2 separate regions of the Homo sapiens genome follow, and region 2 is linked to region 1. Evidence: fine-mapped QTL for protein levels in blood plasma. A gene starts in region 1. The other region holds a variant in brackets. All regions are shown on one strand. Distances are between the middles of the regions. Region 1 holds the start of LPO (lactoperoxidase). Region 2 holds the start of LOC124904038 (a long non-coding RNA gene).

Evidence for each region. PIP is the posterior inclusion probability: the model's chance that the variant is causal. Protein levels are from antibody-based Olink assays in UK Biobank. Linkage for the fine-mapping came from a reference panel and not from the study's own genotypes, which makes the PIPs less certain.
Region 2: its variant is fine-mapped to the plasma level of the LPO protein (UK Biobank, PIP above 0.99). The variant lies in the coding sequence of LPO. If it changes the protein, the assay may bind it differently, which can mimic a change of level.

The regions. Positions count from the first base shown.
Region 1 is chr17:58,230,288-58,242,219 of GRCh38, reverse strand. LPO (lactoperoxidase) reads right to left here and starts at 3,636. Exons shown (of 13, transcript NM_006151.3): 1 at 3,481-3,636. It overlaps LOC124904038 (a long non-coding RNA gene), which reads left to right. Exons shown (of 3, transcript XR_007065862.1): 3 at 1-542. LOC105371841 (a long non-coding RNA gene) reads right to left here. Exons shown (of 2, transcript XR_934884.4): 2 at 8,641-9,560.
Region 2 is chr17:58,246,764-58,254,763 of GRCh38, reverse strand. It overlaps LPO (lactoperoxidase), which reads right to left. Exons shown (of 13, transcript NM_006151.3): 4 at 7,126-7,286; 5 at 5,587-5,704; 6 at 5,069-5,198; 7 at 4,143-4,349; 8 at 2,258-2,582. LOC124904038 (a long non-coding RNA gene) reads left to right here and starts at 5,680. Exons shown (of 3, transcript XR_007065862.1): 1 at 5,680-5,822. RefSeq lists enhancers at 5,215-5,284, 5,415-5,980. The variant G/A (reference allele first, on the strand shown) is at 4,346.

The DNA.
Region 1 (11,932 bases):
TGAAGCTTTGTTTTCTGATGAGGGTCTTCACTGGGCTTAGTGGAGCAGACCCCATACATCTTCTGAGGAGATTCTGGCTCCAGCCCGGGGTGGCAGCCACAGCGTGCAGATGGAATGATTGTGTGTTTAGACCATGGTCCTGAGAGGCTCCTCAGCTTTCACAAGGGCGCCTGTGCTCTCCCTGCAGCACGGCGTTCACTGGTGGAATCCAGAAGCACACTAAGGAGAGCAGCCTCAGGTTGCCCCCCAGCCATGTCTCCCCAGGGCTCAGCTCCCAGAGAGAAATCATAGTTCTGGAGCTTTGCCTGACAGACTTCCCCGTATGTCTTGCAGACCCTCTCCAAATCATCTCCCTTTGGAATAGGCCAGACCAGGAGACCTCTGTATATGGATCAGGTCATTTCAGCCTCCTTCACCCCTGCCTGCCTCCAATTTTTCCCTCTGCCCTTTCGTGGTCCCCCTAATAATTTGTATCTTGTTGTACTTTTTGCCAGCTAACTCTAGAGAAGGGGCAAGGCATGAATAAATACCTCTCTGGCCAAGATTCTCTCTGTTACTTCCCCCCACCCCAAGATGAGTTCTCAAACAGCTTGACCTCTCAGTGGGCTCTTGTCCTTATAGTTGTATGGCCCCAAGGAGGAAGAGATTCTGTGACCTCCTATCCCTCTGTCACCATATTTTGCAACTTCAGGGGACCCATTGCAGGGTTCATTGAGTTAGCAGAAATCTGCCCTTCAGACAAACAGAGATGATGGTTTTGGAGGAAAAGGTATCATTGACTTTAAAAAACAAACTATGGTAAAAAACATGGCCAGGTGTGGTGGCTCATGCCTGTAATCCCAGAATTTTGGGAGGCTGAGGCAGGCGGATCACTTGAGGTCAGGGGTTGGAGACCAGCCTGGTCAATGTGGTAAAACCCTGTCTCTACTAGAAATACAAGAATTAGCCAGGCGTGGTGGCAGACACCGGCAATTCCAGCTACTCGGGAGACTGAGGCAGGAGAATCCCTTGAACCTGGGAGGTGGAGGCTGCAGTGAGCCAAGATTGCGCCACTGCACTCCAGCCTGGCTCAAAAAAAAAAAAAAAAAAAAAAAGAAAAAAGAAAAGAAAAGAACAACAACAACAAAAATCCACATAGCATAAAATTTAGCATCCTAGTCATTTAAACTCTACAGTACTGTAATGTTAGGTATATTCACATGTTGCACAATGGATCTCTAGAACATTTTCATCCTGTAAAAACTGAAACCCTATACCCATTGAACACCAACTCCCTATTTCCCCTTCCCCCTAGCTCCTGGCAACCACCATATCACTGATTTTTTTAAAGAGGGCTGTGGGCACAAACATTCATTATATTGTTCTTTGAATGACTAATGCGTTTCCTAATAAATGACAAACACAAAGTAAAAAATTAGTCCATTTTTTAAAAAGACATCATCTGAGACAGCCTGAGGAAGACAAAATCATAGAAGAAGACATGAAAGTTGAGAAATTTGAACAGGAAACAATACTTAAATATTCAATTCTCCTCTCCTCTTCTTTAGGACCCCCTTCATGCTCTCCTCACTGGAAAGTGGAGGAGGGGGACTTCAAGGCCAGAGAGAAATTATTTTCCCATGTCTTGGGCAATGTTCCTGGTGGGTGTGAGGGACGGGTATGAACAAAAATCAGAGCCAGGTGAATACAAGGTCATGTCACTGAAAAGGGGGTGTGCAGAAAGATTCTAGAGGGACACTGTCTTCAGCCAGAACCACACAGGGCAAGAGGGCCTGGGGCTTTAGAGTGTAAGAGGCCAACAAGAGGCTCCTGTGATGTGTAGATATTTATCCATATTCTTATCAACATGCTGAGTGCAGAAACCATTTCCCAAGCCCTTTGATTTGCAGCAAAGCCTGGAGCCTTCCCTGGGACATGAAGCACTATCTGGAGACAGAGCCACAGCCTTTGCCCCTCAAATGCCAGGCTGGTCCACAATCCCATGCCTCTACTCATGCTCTTCCCTATACAATACCCTCTCTGGCTAATAAACTCCTATTCATTCTTCAAAACCCAGACCAAATTTCACCTCCTCTGTGAAGTTTACCAGTTTTCTCCAGGAAAAGTTAGATCGTTCCTTTTTCTGTCCTCCCACAGTATTTCATCCATATCTCATATTACTGTCTTCACATCTGTTTCCCCTATCAGACCATGAACTCCTCAAGGGCTCCATCTTATTTATTTGTTTTCCCAGGACCTAAGCATGTCAATACATAATAGGTGTTGGGTGCATGCTGAATGAATAAAACTCCTAGAGCAGAGAAATTCAGCATCTGGAGGTTGCAGAGGGAGAGGGCAGAGATAGTCCCTCGGCAAGCCTCTCACACTGTAATGTGCCTACTATCACCTAGGGATTTTGGTAAATGCAGATTCTGACTCAGAAGGTCATAGAAGGGGCCTGAAAGTCTGCATTTCCAGTAAGCTCCAGGTGATGATGATGTTGCTGGTCTGCAGACCACACTCTGAGTACCAAGGCCTTCCAGACTTTGGTTCTCAATGTCGCTGAGCAGTCACCAAGGAGATAGGGGGAAGGCCTGAGAAGGGATGAAGTCAGTGAGATTCTCTTCCATGATTGTAAAGAGCCCTGTGGAGGGTGGTGGAGTGAGCCAATAGGAAAGCCATAATTCTTGCCCCATCACCTGCAGGAACACTCTCTTGATCTTTTGAGTGACTCCAAGATCAGGATGAGAATGAAGAGATAGCTCTTATCAAGCCCTCTAGAGCGGAAATAATCTACTTCAACTGAAAGATTTGAGGCACACAATTGCATAAAAAACAAATATAATTTAACCACCCCATTCCCCCAAAATGAAGCCTGCCTACTACCGCTGCATACAGGTCACACACCTGCTTGAGAGCCAGGTGTCCACAGGGCACTTAAGACAGCTAGGACTAGACATTGAGGGCAAACTAGATGGTCGGATCTGCTGCAGATGGCAGGCATGAGATGCTGGAAATGAGATGAAGACCTGACAGCTCCGGCTTAGGGAACCCCTTAAAACACTGCAAAATCTCCACTATAGTGGAGAGGCCAGATTTCATCACACTGTCTCAAGAACAGCACAGGGAGCACCATTCTGTCACTGTTTTCCCCCAAATTCCTGTGTGACTCTGGACACATTAAATTGCTTAAGTCTCAGTTCCTAAACAAGGTGGATAAGAGAGGTCTATGGTACCTTCCAGCCCTAAGAGTTTATGATTCTCTGACATAGTTTTCAGACACAGAAAAGCCTTTTTCCCCCACAGTGGTGGGGGGAGGCTTAATTACATTCTCTCTTATACCAAACAAGAGGAGTGTGCCATGGGGTGGCTAAAGCTGGCACCAGAAAGTGCCTGATAGAGACAAGTCTAAATCCAGTGTTAAGCTTTCTGAGAAGACGTTAGGAAATTTCATCATCAACTTTGCAGAAACCAGGAAAGATGAAAGTTGACGAGTCTTACCTGCCCAGTGCCTTGTCTTTTCACGGCAGCCAGGGAGTTGCTCTGCTTGGAGGAGCTGGTCTTTTATACCTTCCAGCAAGAATTCACTTCTGGGAAAGGCCCAGAAGGAAAGATTTTGATGTGGCTTGGAGGAGACGCTGAGGCTTAGCAGGAAAGACTGTGTGACTCCGGGCAGATACACCAGGAAACTGCAGAATGGCAGGGATTGGTTGATGCAATAGCACTGACTGTGGGTGAAGCAACTCCTCTTTCCATTTTCTAGCTTAAATGCATGATCCTGATCTAGTTCCGGAAGGCAAAAACTGCATGCCCTGAGCACATTTGTCCCTTTTAAGCTCCTAATGGGATCCGAATAGCTCTTAGAATTATGAACAATTATTAGGTTGGTGCAAAAGTATTGCAAAAACCGCAATTACTTTTGCACCTAGCTAAATGGTTCTCCTCCCCATTCATATATTCACTGCCCTTTGATCCCTCCCTTACATTCCACCCAATTTACTGTGGAATCCAGTGGATTCATCTTTTGGATTTAAAGTGATCAATAAACATTAATTTTTTTGGTCAAAATTTCAAAATACTTTTGGCCACCAAAGGGTGAGAAGAGCCCTAAGCTTTCATAGTGGGTTGCAGTCCCTGCCTCTGCCATTGTATGGCTCTAGGCAAGTCACTTCACCTTCTGGTGTCTCAAATTTTCTAGTATTGAAATCAATGGTTGGTTTTGGTGATTATTATGATTCTATGACTTCATGCCTTCTATAGGGTGACCCATTTAAAAAACTCCAGAATCTGGGAGGCCAAGGTGGGTGGATCACTTGAGGTCAGGAGTTGGAGACCAGCCCAGCCAACATGGTGAAACCCTGTCTCTACTAAAAACACAAAAATTAACCAGGCATGGAGGTGCATACCTGTAATCCCAGCTACCTGGGAGGCTGAGGTGGGAGAATCACTTGAACCTGGGAGGCAGGGGTTGCAGTGAGCCAAGATCATGCCATTGCACTCCAGCCTGGGTGACAGGACGAGACTCTGTCTCAACAAAACGAAACAAAACAAAACCACCACTATCGTATAAATTATTGACCTAAAGCTCAAGCATAATGTTACATACCTTTCCTACCTCAATGACTTTGGAAATTCAAGTTCATTAGATTCATACAAGAAGGAAAAAGGAAGATTCCGAGAAAACAAAATTTCATGAAAGTATATTTTACAGACAGACAATTTAAAACATAATAAGCCTCTTTATGAAATTATACTTTGAGTTGAAAATACTCTGGGAGCAACTGTCAGAAATTTATCAACCCCAAAACAGACTTCTTGGTTCGCCTTCAAAAAAGTGATATTTCCTTTCTCTAGATGGTGGAATATATCTAAAAACTACTTCTCTCGTGATGAATCCAGGCAAATAAGCTGGGCATCTCGGAAGAAGGCAGCTGTCCAGGAGAGGTGAATGAGACATCAGGCTCTTCTTGTTTTCTTTGAAACACACTTCAGCTCCTTAGCCAAGCATTGTTTTTCTGTGTCTGACCATTCCCTGAACTTTGGCACATGTTTCTCAAGGTTCTTGCCTCTGAGTTTTATGCTTAATATGTTCAGGAAGCTGTGTTGTTAGGCAGATCTTGACCTAGTTGGTTCTGAATAATCTGAAGATGGAACTTCCTTTTAGAAGACCCTATGGGATAACATTGCTTCCTATGTACAAAATATAGTGACTTATTGGTCAGGGTAACAGCAAAATACAGGTCTGATTATTCCCGGGTTTTATCATGTTATGACATGATATGATATGTCCTAGCTTTGGTCTTTCTGTAATGGGTCAAATAGGATGGGGCAGTGTCAGCTCCAGCCCAGTAAGGACCTTCCTTGATATTGGCCGTGAAGCACACCTGGAGGCAGTCAATCTGACAGTGACATGCCTATTGTTCTATAGCTAATTTTTATTTGAGAGCTTTGCTGACATGTGATGACATGTTTTCATGGGTTTATCTCAGTCTAGTCAAATCTGTAGCACAGGTAGATGTCTTCCCATGTGGGAATGGCAAATTGGCCTGAGAAATGGAGAGTGGAAGGCAGAAAGTTCAGGAGAAAGCTAAAAAGGCCAATAGCTTCTCATATGTCAGTGCAGAGTCCAAGATATTTTAGCAAAAGCAGCAGCAGCAGGGAGTACCCAATGAAGATAAGGTCTATCGCTGGCACATGACAGTACACACACCCACACACACACACAAACATGCACACATACTTCCCAGGAACACACAGTTTATAAATGAGACTGATTTTGGACATAGCTGGCTCACCTCTGTCGCCTTCTAGAATTAGAATGCTGCATGCTGCATACACAACCTTTGGTTGATCCAAAGGATACTCATGGTTGGTAACACAGTGACCATTCTATTTGTGTAAGGTGATTGTAGCTCTCACACTGGGCCCATGTCAGGTGCTCTCTCCCATGGGCGCATAGCTAGTCCCTTCCTTAGCTGTCTGTTTTCACCTTTGTCTGCTGGCTTGGCTGTCATTCATAGCTGGGCAGGGTTGTTTTTTTTCTTTTCTTTCCTGGCTAAAATGCATTTCCTTTTGTTGGTTTCCTAGAACACCAAACAAACAGACTTCTTGTCCCAAGGGTGGCTCTATATGCCCATGTTTACCCCTTTTGGGATTCATCCACTAGTTCTACCCCAGAGAAGGGAGGAACCCAGGCACTCTGGCTTAAGCTGTCCCTGGCCTCTGGAGGGGTGTGCAGATGGCAGAGCTTCTCTGAATGGTGTCCCAGGGCGGCATGAGCTGTTGGAAGGGATGGGGACATTGCCAGGCAGCCCCCTTTGGAGAGAGAGGAGGGATTTATAGATGAGAAAAAGAAATATTTGGGATGGGTTGTATGTCTCTCTAGCAGACAGGAGGAGGCTCTGTTATCTTCTCCTAGCAACTTTTTTTTTTTTCTGAGACAAGGTCTCACTCTGCCTCCCAGGCTAGAGTGCAGTGGTGCAACCACCAGTCAGTGCAAGGGCTCACGCCATCCTCCCACCTCAGCCTCCCAAGTAGCTGGGACTACAGGTATGCACCACCATTCCCTACTAGTTTTTAATTTTTTGTAGAGACAGGGTTTCCCTATGTTACCCAGACTAGTCTCGAACTCCTGGGCTCAAGTGATCCTCCTGCCTTGGCTTCCCAAAGTGCTAGGATTACAGGCATGAGCCACTGAGCCCGGCCTCCTAGTATTTTTTAGTGGGAGAATTGATCTGATGCTTGGTAGCTTCTGAGATTGGCATAACACAAGGGTTCCAACTGGCAAACCTATGATCAATGAATTTTTCCACTTAGCCACAGCATGCTGAGACTGAAGGGCTTCCCTGGGAACCGACCTGGTGGGTGGGCAGAATACTGTCTCTTCCTTCTCTTCATTAATGGCAAATCTTTTTTTTTTTTTTTTTCAGTTAATGCCATTCAACCATTTCCCCTCAGTGTTGTCTTTCCTTTCCTCCCTCTTTCCCTGTTCCTCTTAAATATTCACTGAGCACCTAATAGTATGTGCTTCTGGTTTTTTCTTACTCCTAATCCTCTCTCTTCCTAATTAGTTGACAAATTATGAATTTTAATAAGTTTGCTTAAGCAAAAAAGCTGTCAGATCTGTTCCCTGCCTTGGCAGGGTAATGTAGGCATAGGGCTGGGGAAGGGGATAGACCTCAATGGAGCAAGACAGTCTGAATAAATCCTGAGTTGCTCAGGGTAGAGATGGGGCAATAAACCAATTCCCACTTAAGCCACAAATAAAGAAACACAGGATTTTAAACAAAAAACAATCTTGAATTGCTATTGTTATTCTGTGAGCAGTCTGAGGATATGCTTTGTGATAAGTCCATAAAGAAAATATCATGCGAATAAAATGCCCTGTTTCTCAAGCAAGCAAGCATGTGTATGTGTGTGTGTATGTGTTTGCACACACACGTGCATACAGATGTGACAAAGCAACTAGCGAAAATGCAAGGAGCACTGGATTATTAAAACTCAGCAAGCCAGGCTCTAGTCCTAGCTTGCTAGTCAGCAGCATGTGACATTGGGAAAATTACTCTTTATTCAGAGGTCTCAGTTTCCTTCTCTGGAAAGAGAAATGGGTCCACTAAGTAATTGTGTTGGTTCCCTTGGGCTGTGATGTTTAGAATTCAATTGTGAATCAGTAGATCTTGTAGGTCCCAGTGCCAGTGAGCTTCTGCCTCATTGTACAGTCTTGTACACATTACATACCCTCAGGTTCTCTTTATATAAAAGGGGGATGAGAATCCTATGTTCTTACTCTTAGGACCAGCTGGGATGGGGTAGGGGGACAACTATCCCAAAGGCTGTTTCTCCTTAGTTCTGAGGGACAACCAGAAACAAAAGAACAGGAAGAATCTTGTTGAGAAAGAAGAAAAATTCTGCTGGGAATGTGATCATTCTCTGTCACTCAAGTTGGAAACCAGGGAGACACCCTGGGCATTTTTCTTTTTTCTTTCCCTCTTTTCTCTTCCTCCCCTTCCTCCCATCTTCTTGGTCACTGAATCCTGTCCATTTGTCCTTCATAAATCTCTTGCCTCTGTGGCTTCCTTGACTTCCCCACATTCTGGTTCTGCCCTGCCCTGAATTACCCCCCACTTTATTTATTTATTTATTTATTTATTTATTATTTTTTATTTATTTATTTTTTTTTTGAGACGGAGTTTCGCTCTGTCGCCCAGGCTGGAGTGCAGTGGAATTATCTTGGTTCACTGCAGCCTCTGCCTCCTGAGTTCAAGTGATTCTCCTGTCTCTGGAAGAGGCTGGACTTTTACCCCACTGCAGGGGTTAGAAGGGCCAGTTGAATTTGTAGGATTGTGGTGGAGGCTGGAATGGGGTGAAATGCTCAAATAGTCTGTCTGTGATGGAACCCCTTCCACTCTGGTGGAAACCTGGGGAGGGTGAAGTGGTTATTACCTCTCACTCTTCGCACAGTGCTAAGAAGGGGACAGAGGCTGGGGAGAGGAAGTGAAAGAATCTTCACTGTCCCACCCTCTTTTTCTTCTCTTAATGAATACAGGCTTTTCAAGAGGCTGTAAGCGTACACTGTAGAATGTCCTTCTACTCAGCGAGCAACATGGCCTCTGATATGCCTCTAACAAAAGATAATCATGACCAGGTACCCCTGAAGGAAACTGAGATTCTAAAATTTATTTGATATCTTACTTTTTTAAAGAGAAAAATTTTTATTTTAGAACAATTTTAGATTTACCATATTATTACAAAGATAATACAGAGTTCCTGCACACTCCACACCCAGTTTTCATTATGATTATCTTATTTTACAATGGTACATTTGTCACAGTTAATAAAGCAATATTGTTACATTATTATTAAGTAAAAGGTCAATATCTTACATTTTAACTTTCAAATTCATGCTTTTATGTCCCACTCAAGAAATTATCTGTTTGTTTTTATATAAAAATTTAAAATTTACTTCACAGCAACCTACAGTGGACACACCAAGAATGTGAGCCAAATGTAACCTGTGCTCTCTGTTTTCCGGGCCACTACGGTGTTCCCTGGGGGAGGCGCCCAGCTTGGGCCTACGAGAGTGAGTTCAGAGCGGAGTCGGAAGGAAATCTCATAGGGCCCTAATGACCCTGCTCGGTGGCTGTGTAACCTCAAGAGTTACTCAGTCTCTGAGCCTCGGCTTCCTCTTCTGGTGAGTGGGAGTAGGAGCAGCAGCCTGCCTCACAGGGTGCCATGAGGATAAGCTCGGCTCAGGCATGCAGACACGTAGAGCATGATTCACACGACGTCATTAGCATCAGGAGCATCCCTGAGACAGGAAGGTGAGCAGTGACTTCAGCACGAGCTGGTTCTTGAGAAGTCATGCTTTCACCCTCCCAGCCTCTGAATCGCCACTTCTAATCCTGAGGAGGGTCAGAAGCTGAAACTGAAAAAGGAAATGGCTTCAACCCCACGTCCTCATAGCTGGGTTGCACGCCACAGACAGAGGAGACAGAAAGGGAAAGTTTCTTTTTTTGGCTTCTGCTGCTGGGCATTCTCTCTGTCCTGGTGACTGTGTGGCTCTCCAATGAGCTGCTTGCTATCTGATGGGAAGAAAAAAGGAGATGATGGGGGCCATGGCACCACCCTGTCCCCAAGGAGCCAACTCTAGTTTTGCCCTCTTTTGGTCACATGGATGTGAAAGAGTCCATCTTCAGCCTGAGGACAACAGCTGGCCCAGGCAGGGTTTCTGCTCTTGAACTCGGCAACCTAGGCTAGTTGCTCCCACCTCTCTGAAGTCCCTGTGGACCTGGATACTGCATAGCTGATGATGTCCGTCTGCTGAAATAAAGCCTAGCAGAATTTCCTAGCCTGACAGCTGAAAACCGGCCTGCATTGCTTATAGTAACTCATGTTTTCTCTTTTCCCTTCTTGCTACAGATTTCAGGAGGCCCATTTTGACTTCAGTACCTGGCCCCCCATGAGGTGATGGCCCCACTGTTAGCTTTCCATGTCTAAACTCTGAAATTTTGCCCTGAATTTCGATCCAGTGCCCGAGGCACTGCCACTGCTGGCAATTTAATCATGGTCCTTACTGGATTTCACATCCTACAAATTCAACTGGCCCTTCTAACCCCTGCAGTGGGGTAAAAGTCCAGCCTCTCCCTCCAGCCCCAAGTTCTAAAACGTGGTGCTGGCCCACCTTCATGAACCCTCCCATTTGTGGCCATGTCAAAAGAGAAAATGATGAATGGGTAAGAAAAACAGAAATTGATCAAATCTGCCTGAGATTCTGCCCTCCTAGAACTTATCAAATCTGTAGCAATAAAACTTTACAGCCTCAGATTAGGGATCTGCAATTCCCTGCTCACAGCTGCAATGAGAGCAAGAGACCATGACCTAACAGACTCAATTGGGAAGATTCCCGTTTGTGGGATGTTTTCGATGTGTCACACAACCCTAGATTTCCTTGCTATTTTTATCTTTTGAAACATTCTCCAAGAAACCTAATGTGGAAGTTCCCTCTTTTAACATAATTATGTTGTTTCACTACAAGTTGCTGGGGTTCAAGAAATCATTAATTGGGCTACTTTAAGAGCATAATGTAATTCCAATCTGCAAAAATATAGGAAATATGACATTCTCTAGAAATGGATTTAAGCATAGATCTAGGACTCATAAATAACAAGGCAGTGTTTTGACCCTGGTGATATTTGCCAAGTAAGTATAGCAAGGGGATTTTAGTCAGCCTGGCTTTGCCTCATCATGATTTATATTTGTCTGATTCTTTTAAAAAGTAAGCTTAGAGTTTGAACAACATTTCAGAAGCCTCTGGTTCAGTGATTCCCAAAGGTTGCATCTGAATCAGTGGAAAGCTTGGGAAAAATACAGGCATCCAGACTCTGCTCCTGGTCTACAGAATTCCAGCTCTGGCATTGGAGTTGGAGAACCTCTATTTCTAATAAATCTCCTGGGTGAGTCTGACATACGGGTAGATTTGGAAACTACTAATCTAGCTGAACTTTCTACCCTCTGTAGGATTCCCCACTACATCCTTGCTCCTCAAGGTATGATCCAAAGTCTTATAGCATTGGAATCTTCTGGGAGCTACTCAGAAATACAGAATCTCAGGCCCCACCCAGATGTACCAAATCAGAATCTGCATTTTCACAAAATCCCCAGGTCATATTTATTTACATTAAAGCTGACAGATGGTCATCAAGTCACTGCTTGAACACTTCCGGGGTTGGGGAGCTCAGTATTTACATGGCAACCTGCTTCATTGCTGGGAGGCTCTAATTATCTAGCTCTTTCTTATAGCAAGCTCACTCACTCATTCATGCATTCATTCTACAAATATGGGCAGACTCTAAAAAGTTGACCAAGATGACATAGTCACGTGATCACATTTCAGCCATTTTTAAATTTCAGTTCATAGGCAGAGAGAACCTCTTTTTTTTTTTTTTTTTTTTTTTTTTGATGGAGTCTCACTCTGTCACCCAGGCTGGAGTGCAGTGGCTCAACCTTGGCTCACTGCAACCTCCGCCCCCGGGTTCAAGCAATTCCCCTGCCTCAGCCTCCCGAGTAGCTGGGATTACAGGCACTGCCACGGCGTCCAGCTAATATTTGTATTTTTAGTAGAGACGGGGTTTCACCATCTTGGACAGGCTGGTCTTGAACTCCTGACCTTGTGATCCACCTGCCTCGGCCTCCCGAAGTGCTGGCATGAGCCACCGTGCCCCGCCAAGAGAGAACCTCTCTTAACAGAGATGTATTTTCTTGTTTTCACATAGGCCAGTGTGAAACTAAGGGCCTGTCTCTTGTAGAACCTTACTGAGGGCTGTAAGAAGTTGGTAACACAATCCAATATCCTGAATTTTCCCCACCATCCTCCTAATGCAACAGCCTGCATAGTATGTGGTCCCCATTCCCAGACACATCAGTGTAACTCCTTCCTATCCAAAGTGTGGTCCAT
Region 2 (8,000 bases), 15 kb before region 1:
GACCCAGTAACCTGCACAAAGAAATGATGGTGCCCCACAGGACCGCGCCCCGCCCCCCCCGCCCCGTCAACAAGCCCTACTTCCCGTCAGGTGAATAGGGATGGGGAGGGGGTACTGAATCATAGGTTTGACTCTCAGTTCTATATACACACTTTTTAGCTGTGTGACCTTGGACAAGTTACTTAACACTTCTGAGCCTCGGTCTCCTTACCTATGAAAATGAGAATAAAGCCTATCACAGCACTGTGACAAAGGCTAGTGGTGACAAACTACACAGTAACATTTTGCTAATTATAACCCAACCGCCTTCTAGGAAGGGGAGCTTCGAATGAATGAGGAGCTTTTTACTTCACAGAGCAAATTTGAAGGTTTTAGGAATGCGGGTTTGAGGTGAGGAGCTTGGGTAAGGCTGAGTTCCTCTGGGTAATAAAGGGAGAATAATCTGGAGATGGGGGTCTGTAGTGGGAGGGAGAGAGGAGTAACGATGGGGGAACAGTTAAATGGCCAAAGACCAGGTGTCTCATAAGGGGATAAAGGACTTCTCCCTGTGCCCTCTAATCTTTAGGAGAGTCTATCTATCTATCTATCTATCTATCTATCTATCTATCTATATATCTATATATCTATATATCTATCATCATCTATCTATCTATCTGGACAGTCTTGCTCTGTTGCCCAGGCTGGAGTGCAATGGCATTATCTTGGCTAACTGAAGCCTCAACCTCGTGGGCTCAAGTGATCCTCCTGTTTCAGCCTCCAGAGTAGCTGGGACTACAGGCATGTGCCACCATGTGTTGCTAGTTTTTAAATTTTTTGTAGAGACAGGGGTCTTGCTATGTTGCCCAGGCTGTTCTCGAACTTGTGGCCTCAAGCAATCCTCCCACCTAAGCCTCCCAAAGTGTTGGGATTACAGGCATGAGCCACTGCACCAGGCCAGGAAATCTATTTAAAATTGTAAATTCTTGGTGTGAGTGCATATTTTTATGAAAAACAAGAAAGAACTCGGTTTTGTGTCTGGATTGCTGTGGGATATATGTGAACACAAAATCCAAAAGATCTATAAAGGTATCTTGGCCTAAGAGCTGGCCTTCTGCAATGTCAGGGTGGCCAGGGGGTTTGTCCAAAGAGAGAGGATGTTTGAGGGTGGGATGGCCTCTAGAAGCCGGAGACAGAGAGGACCAGGAGGGCACCTGGAATGAACAGAATTAGCAGGGCTTTGGTCGTGCACAGGCTGAATGGAATGGGGATTTTGTCCCCAGGTTATAAAAAGCTTTAAAAATATACATTCCTCTTCATCTAGAACTTCCTCTTCTGGGAAATTAGCTTAATAAATGTATTAAAAATGAGAACAAAGATTTATCAATGAAGATGTTCATTACCTAAACAACAGCAACAAAACACAGGAAAACTTGAAATAACTAAATTCCCCCAAGTAGGATTGAGAAAATAAATGATGGTAATATGTGTCATGAAATACCAGGCAGCCATTAAAAATCACGTCATAGAAGAACAGTTAATGGCATGGAGTAAATTAAGTGAAGACATCAGGTTTTGGAGCATTATTTATAGTAAGACCCGATTATGTAAAACAATGTAGAACTGTATCTGTGATAGAAAAAATACTGGAAAATAAGCATGAAAATGTTAACGATGATTATTGGTGGGTAGTGGGATTGTGTGAATTTTCTTTTTCTTTTCTTTTCTTTCTTTCTTTCTTTTTTTTTTTTTTTTTTTTTTTTTTGAGATGGAGTCTTGCTTTGTTGCCCAGGCTGGAGTGCAGTGGCGTGATCTCGGCTCACTGCAACCTCCGCCTCCTGGGTTCAGGTGATTCTTCTACCTCAGCCTCCAGAGTAGCTGGGACTACAGGGGTGTGCCACCACGCCCGGCTAATTTTTTGTGTTTTTAGAAGAGACGGGGTTTCACCATGTTAGCCAGGATGGTCTCGATCTCGTGACCTCATGATCTGCCTGCCTCGGCCTCCCAAAGTGCTGGGATTACAGGCGTGAGCCACCAAGCCTGGCACTTTCTTTTTATTTTCTTTGTTACTTTTCTGGACTTCCTGATTTTGTTTTACAGTGAACATATGTTCTGGAATTCTTTATTCATCTGGGCCCTTCTGCTAGTCCTGGACCACTGCTAGGGACAGCAATGGCTCAGTGTGCATTTTTCCAGAAAGATGACAAGAAGGGGGCAGTGGTAAAGCTTCCCTGGATAATCCCCTTGTCCTTGGGCCCTTCTGTTCCCAGGCTAGACTCACCTGCCAGGAAGCAGGGCACACGGGCAGTGGTGTTGATGAACTCACAGGGGCTTGGCTTCTTGCTGTCATAGGGCAGGTAGGGTAGTCCATGGTCTGAGACCTCCTGGTTGACAGCCATGAGGCCCAGGGGGCTGCTGAGGTTGCGGAGGCGGCTGGCCAGGCTTGGCTCGGAGCTGTACACAAAGCTGGCATCCAGGAAGGAGGTCAGAGCGTTGATCTGCTCTCGGGCCAGGGACTTGTAGGGTGGAGTGGGGCAGACGAACCCAGCTCGGAAGAAAGGCATGCATTTCCCTTGAGTCCCCGCCTTGGGGTCATTGGGTGGGAACTGCAGAGAGAGTGGGCATAAGTGACTGGGCAGGGGTGGAACAGCTGGGTCCTGGCAACCTCTCCCCAGGGCAAGTCTGGATGCAAAGATGCTGATGGCACCCTCCTAGGACCCTGGTACCAGACACTGACCCCAGACACTTCTTGCTGACATTACACACCCTGGGCTCATAATATCCTGAAGTTCATTACATCCTGTTGTGTGAAAGAACTGAGGGTAATCATTCAGTCCTCACAGTGAGGGCTCCAAATTTCTGGTGAGGAGGGAGTATTGAGCTCCCTGGACAGGAAAGCAGGACACGAGGTGGGAACAGGTTTGTTAATAATTACTACTAACAACAGCTGCCATGTATTTATTTTGGACTTACCATGTGCCAGGAATTATGCATACTTTAACTCATCTCAGTCCTCAAAAAAACCCTGTAAGGTGGACAATTCAGTTCCATTTTATAGATGAGAAAACTGGGGCTCAGAAAAGTTAAGTAAGTTGCCTAAGAACTTATACACTGGAAGGGAAAGATGTAGGATTCAGATCATTGGCTTCATTCCACAGTTTATGCTCTTTATACCACAGCACATAGCCTCGATTTATTCTTTGAGTGAAGAAATGACTCTCCAACTGTAATACCCATGAATAATAAGAAAAGATGCATTGCTGCAAGCTCCTCTCCCTTCCGGATGGAAATCCCTACAAATCCCTGCTGCTCACTCGGATTCATCCAGGTTTCAAGTCCTTCTGAGTGGAGTTGAAGTCATCCTCCACGATGATGTACAGCAGTATAAACTTTATCATGTATAAAATGAATCTCTGTTGATCTTGGTAAAAATGTAGAATCTATTTCCTAACATCTTGGGTGAGACTTGAGATTTTGCATTTTTTTTTTCTTTTTCTTTTTTCTTTTTTGAGTTGGAATCTTGCTCTGTTGCCCAGGCTGGAGTGCAGTGGCGTGATCTCGGCTCACTGCAACCTCCGCCTCCCAGGTTCAAGCGGTTCTCCTGCCTCAACCTCCTGAGTAGCTGGGACCACATGCATGTGCCACCTCGCCAGGCTAATTTTTGTATTTTTAGTAGAGACGGGGTTTCACCATGTTGGCCAGGCTGGTCTCAAACTCTTGACCTCAGGTGATCTGTCCACCTCAGCCTCCCCAAGTGCTGGGATTATAGGCATGAGCCGCCTCGCCCAACTGAGATTTTACATTTCTAATAAGCAGGTTTTACCAATGCTGCTGGGTCGGGAATGTAGACAACCTTCTCCAGTGTTCCCATTCTGCTATCAGTAGTTTACTTGTCCAATTCCCACACTGGCCCTTTGTTCTTGAGAGCAGGAGCGGTGTCCTGTTCACTTTGGAATCCTCAGCGCTTAGTGCACTGCCTGGTATGGGGTGGTCAATGTCTATTTACTGAATAAACGGATGAGTGAACGAATGGACACGTGAGGCATGGGAAACTACCAAATCAGTATCCCAGATCTATCCAGAGATCCTAGCTGATGAGCTGGGAATGTCTGCTACATCAGGGTGGGCAAGGGGCTAGTCAGAGATGCCTAGCTGCAGGGCCGTACCATGATGGGGAAGCAGTTGTCTCCCTGGATACAGTACTCATCACACTGGGCTTTGGAGTACTCGCTACTCCCCAGCTCGGTGTCAGGGGCAAAGTCCAGGTCATGATCCACAATCTGACCCCACTGCATGAAGAGCAGGGACCTGTTTTGGTCCAGAACACCCTCCTCATTCAGATAGCCAACAATCTTGTTAGATACCTCCC[G/A]GGCCTACAGATGGAGAGAGAAGGGGAGGGCAGATTAGAGGAAAAAGTGCTTTGAGGATTCAGATGCAACTACAGCTTATTAACTACCTACCATGTTACAAGTGCACTTAATCCCTACAAGGAGTTTGTGAGGTGGGTGGCATTAGCCTATTCTGTAGAGGGGGAGATTGAATCCTGGACAGGTGAAGTCAGTTCTCCAAGGTCCTGCCGCTACAAAGGGACAGGGATGGGATTGAACCCAGATCCGTATGACTTGATGATTTGCCAAGCCGGTGCCCTTTCCACTAAGAGAGGGAAAACAAAGACAGGCTGCCTCTGAAATGCGAGCTACGGAGGTGCCAGGTGTCCAGGAATAGGAGAGGGGCTCTGGGTAGGGGCTGCCAGCTCGATAAGGCCAACAAATAGGACCTCCAGGCAAACAACAGCTGATGCACTCCAGGGGCGGGGGCTGGGGTAAGTGCGAGCGGGATGGGGCAGGGAGGCCATCTGCCCGGGAGACCCCAGGGTATCTGGCCTGCGGCGGCCAGAACGTGACCGCCACGTGGCCGGGCTCCGGGCTCCGAGCTCTGCTGCCCTCTAGCGGAAGGTGGGGGTCTGTGCAGATCTCCATCGCGCACCCCTGCTGCCCCCACCGATCCCTCCTCCTCCTTTCACTGCGTGTTTGGGTAGTGCATCCCGTCCCCTCTGGCTCCCATCCTTCACCCCGGCCCGGCCTGCCCTCACCAGCGGGAGAGGGAAGCCGTTGCGCGTCTTCCCCGGCGTCCAGCCGAAGGGCAGGGAGAGCCCGTCCTCGTACTCCGCGGGCAGCCAGCGCGCCAGAGCCCTGTTGGCGGCGCCCAGCGCAGGCTTCCTCCTGAAACCAGCACGATCCTCGCTGAGCTTCGGCAGGCCGGCTCCGGGGCTCCAAAGCCCAGGACCCCATGGGGGAAGGAGCCTCTGCTCGAGGCGGAGGGGACGCAGAGAAGGGGGCCTCTCAAATTTGGGGTCTCTGAACTGCGCCCACCCCCTGAAGGCGCGGGGCTCCCCCGCCCCGGGGAAAGGTGCCGCTTCCAGAGACACACAGTGGGCTGGAGGGAGAGGGCTGGAGACGCGCGATCTTGAGAAGGTGGGGAAGGTGGGAACGCCAGCCCAGGTGGGCAAGGCAGTGGCAGATCTGCCTAGAGTGCCCAAGGGACAAAGGCCTTGGCAGGGCGGGGCGGAGTGGCTGGAATGGTCGGCCCCCACACCCCAAGCCCCGCCACCTGTTATTGCAGTCTCCCGTAATGGTGCGGTAAGGGCTGCACGGGTCGCATCTCACCACGGGAGCAGGAGCACCACAGCCCACCTCCAGAGACAGTGAAGTCAAGTCCAGGCTGGGATCTGAAACAGAAGGGACCCCAAAGGGACTGAGTTCTTTCTCCATTCACAGGCACCCGTGGGAGGCAGGAAATGGAGACCAGAGGTGAACCTGCATGTTTTGGAATGCATTCCATTCTAAGTAAGCGTTTCTCAAGTGGTTTCTCAATTAATCTGACAGCACATTAAGGTAATACATTTTATTCCCATTTTACAGGGAAGAAAATGAGAACACAATGTTCAAGAGACTTGCCCAAGGCCACACAGAGTAACTGGGAATGTCCCCAGAATTGCTAGTAATTCCTGGTATACCAGGTCCAGATTCATTTGAATTGACAGATCTTTCTTTTAGAATGGAAATACCCCGGGAGGTTAAGCATATGTTAGTATGAGTTAGTGTGATAAGACTGCTTTCTTCTAAAGCTTCGTTCACATCTGAAGTACCAAGCAAGCAGGGACATAGCTAGGATAGAGGTTGGGAAGGGACAGGTAATTTTTCAGTGAGGGGCAAGGGTTGTGGGAGGAGTGACAGAGTAGGGGGGCTTTAGGCATCAGAGTGTTCAGTGTGGGCACAGAGTGGAGAGAGATGCCCACTTCTGAACGCATACCCTCATCCACCCTGGCGTCTGCAAGGGCAGGGAGGTGAGGGAATCTGGCTCATGGGGGCTTCTTCCGGGGGGCCATCTCTGAAAGGTGGCAGGATTTCAGCTCTCCGAACCTTTTGTATTTCAGAGGTCAAAGTGCTTCCTACTTCTTACCTTGTCCCAGTTTCCTTCTTTTGGAGCTTTGGAATTTGCCCAACTCCTGGGCCAGGTATCCCCCCTCACTTGATGTTTTCCCAGGGAGAACCTGCAGCCTTTTCCTCCTGTCAGGACCAAACCCCTTCCTCATGACCCTCTGTGGGCTGTGGCATTTGGTTGGGGGTGAGAGTGGAGGGGATGGAGGAGGCCATGACCAAGCCATCAGTTAAGTTCACTTACTGATAGCTCCATCTTACCCAGAACACGATGGAAATCTTAGCTCCTGTGACATTATCCCAAGTAAATCCCCCTGACACATGTGGCTTAAATGTCTCTTCTACTAGAGGAAGTGGTGACACTGTGGCTTAGGACAAGGAACCCATGTTTATTGACTTTAGCACTTCCTTTGGGCAGAGGCCTTACAGACGGTGTTATACAAAGAGCACCAATGTCCCCTCACTTGGAGTCGGCCATGTGAGCTTGCTAGGTCTCAGTTTCTTCCTCTGCAAAAACAGCATTGCCCTAGCTGTCCTCTAAGACCTTCCTTGCTCTGCCAGTCTCGTCTACGGGTCTAAGAAGGGAGAGACAGGAGTGTTCCTCTGAGTAGATAGCTCTCAACAGGAAGTGCAGCTTTGGGTGGCCTCTGCTTTCTCCTGTGGGGAGATGACCCCTTCCTGCCACAGAGGGCTGGTGGGTTTTCTGTACCTGTGACATTGGTCAAGGATGCCTTCTGCCTCAGTCTCTTTAAAGACTCCTCCCACACCTGTCCATTGCGGATGGCTGTGCGCGTCCGGCCTTTGGCATGCTTGAGGTATTCTGAGAGCTGTCGGCTGGTGGGAGTCTCAGAGCTCATGGCGGTCTTCAGCCTACAGTGGAGGGAGATGGGGATCATGGCCTGGACCCTGTAGGAAGGGGGCTGGGGGCCGCTGGAGGGGTGGGAGGGGTGTGTGTACAACATGGCCTCATAACCCAGCTGCTGCACTGTCCAATACAGTAGCCACTAACCACATGTGGCTATTTAAATTGAAACTCATTAAAATTAAAATTAAAAATTCAGTTCCTCAGCAGCACTAGGCACACCTCAAGTGCTCAATAGCCAGGTGTGGTTAGTGATGACTGTGTTGGACAGTGCAGATATAGAACATTTCATCATCCTAGAAAGTTATCTTGGACACTGCTAGCCTAAAGTGGGCTTAGAGCTGGACAGACACAGGGGTGGATCTGGGTTCCACCAGGATTGGTTTAATTATATGACCTCTGAGTGACTTCCCCTCATTTATGAACTGGAAATCACAATTTCCTCCCATCAGAGACTTCTGTATGGACTTTGGGATAGACTGACTGGGATTGGCTCCTGACTGCCACTTTCTAGTTGTGTGCCCTTGAGGCAAATTACTTAAGCTCTTTGTACTCAGTTTCCTTATTGGTATAATGAAAATAATGATGGTAATCTTAGGTTGAACCATGTTGTTTCATCATTTTTGACCTTGAAAACAGCTGTTTTCTACAGTTCGATTCAGTACTTCCTAGGATTTTGGGGAGGAATGAATGTAGGGCCCCCAGAGCTGCATCTGCACAGA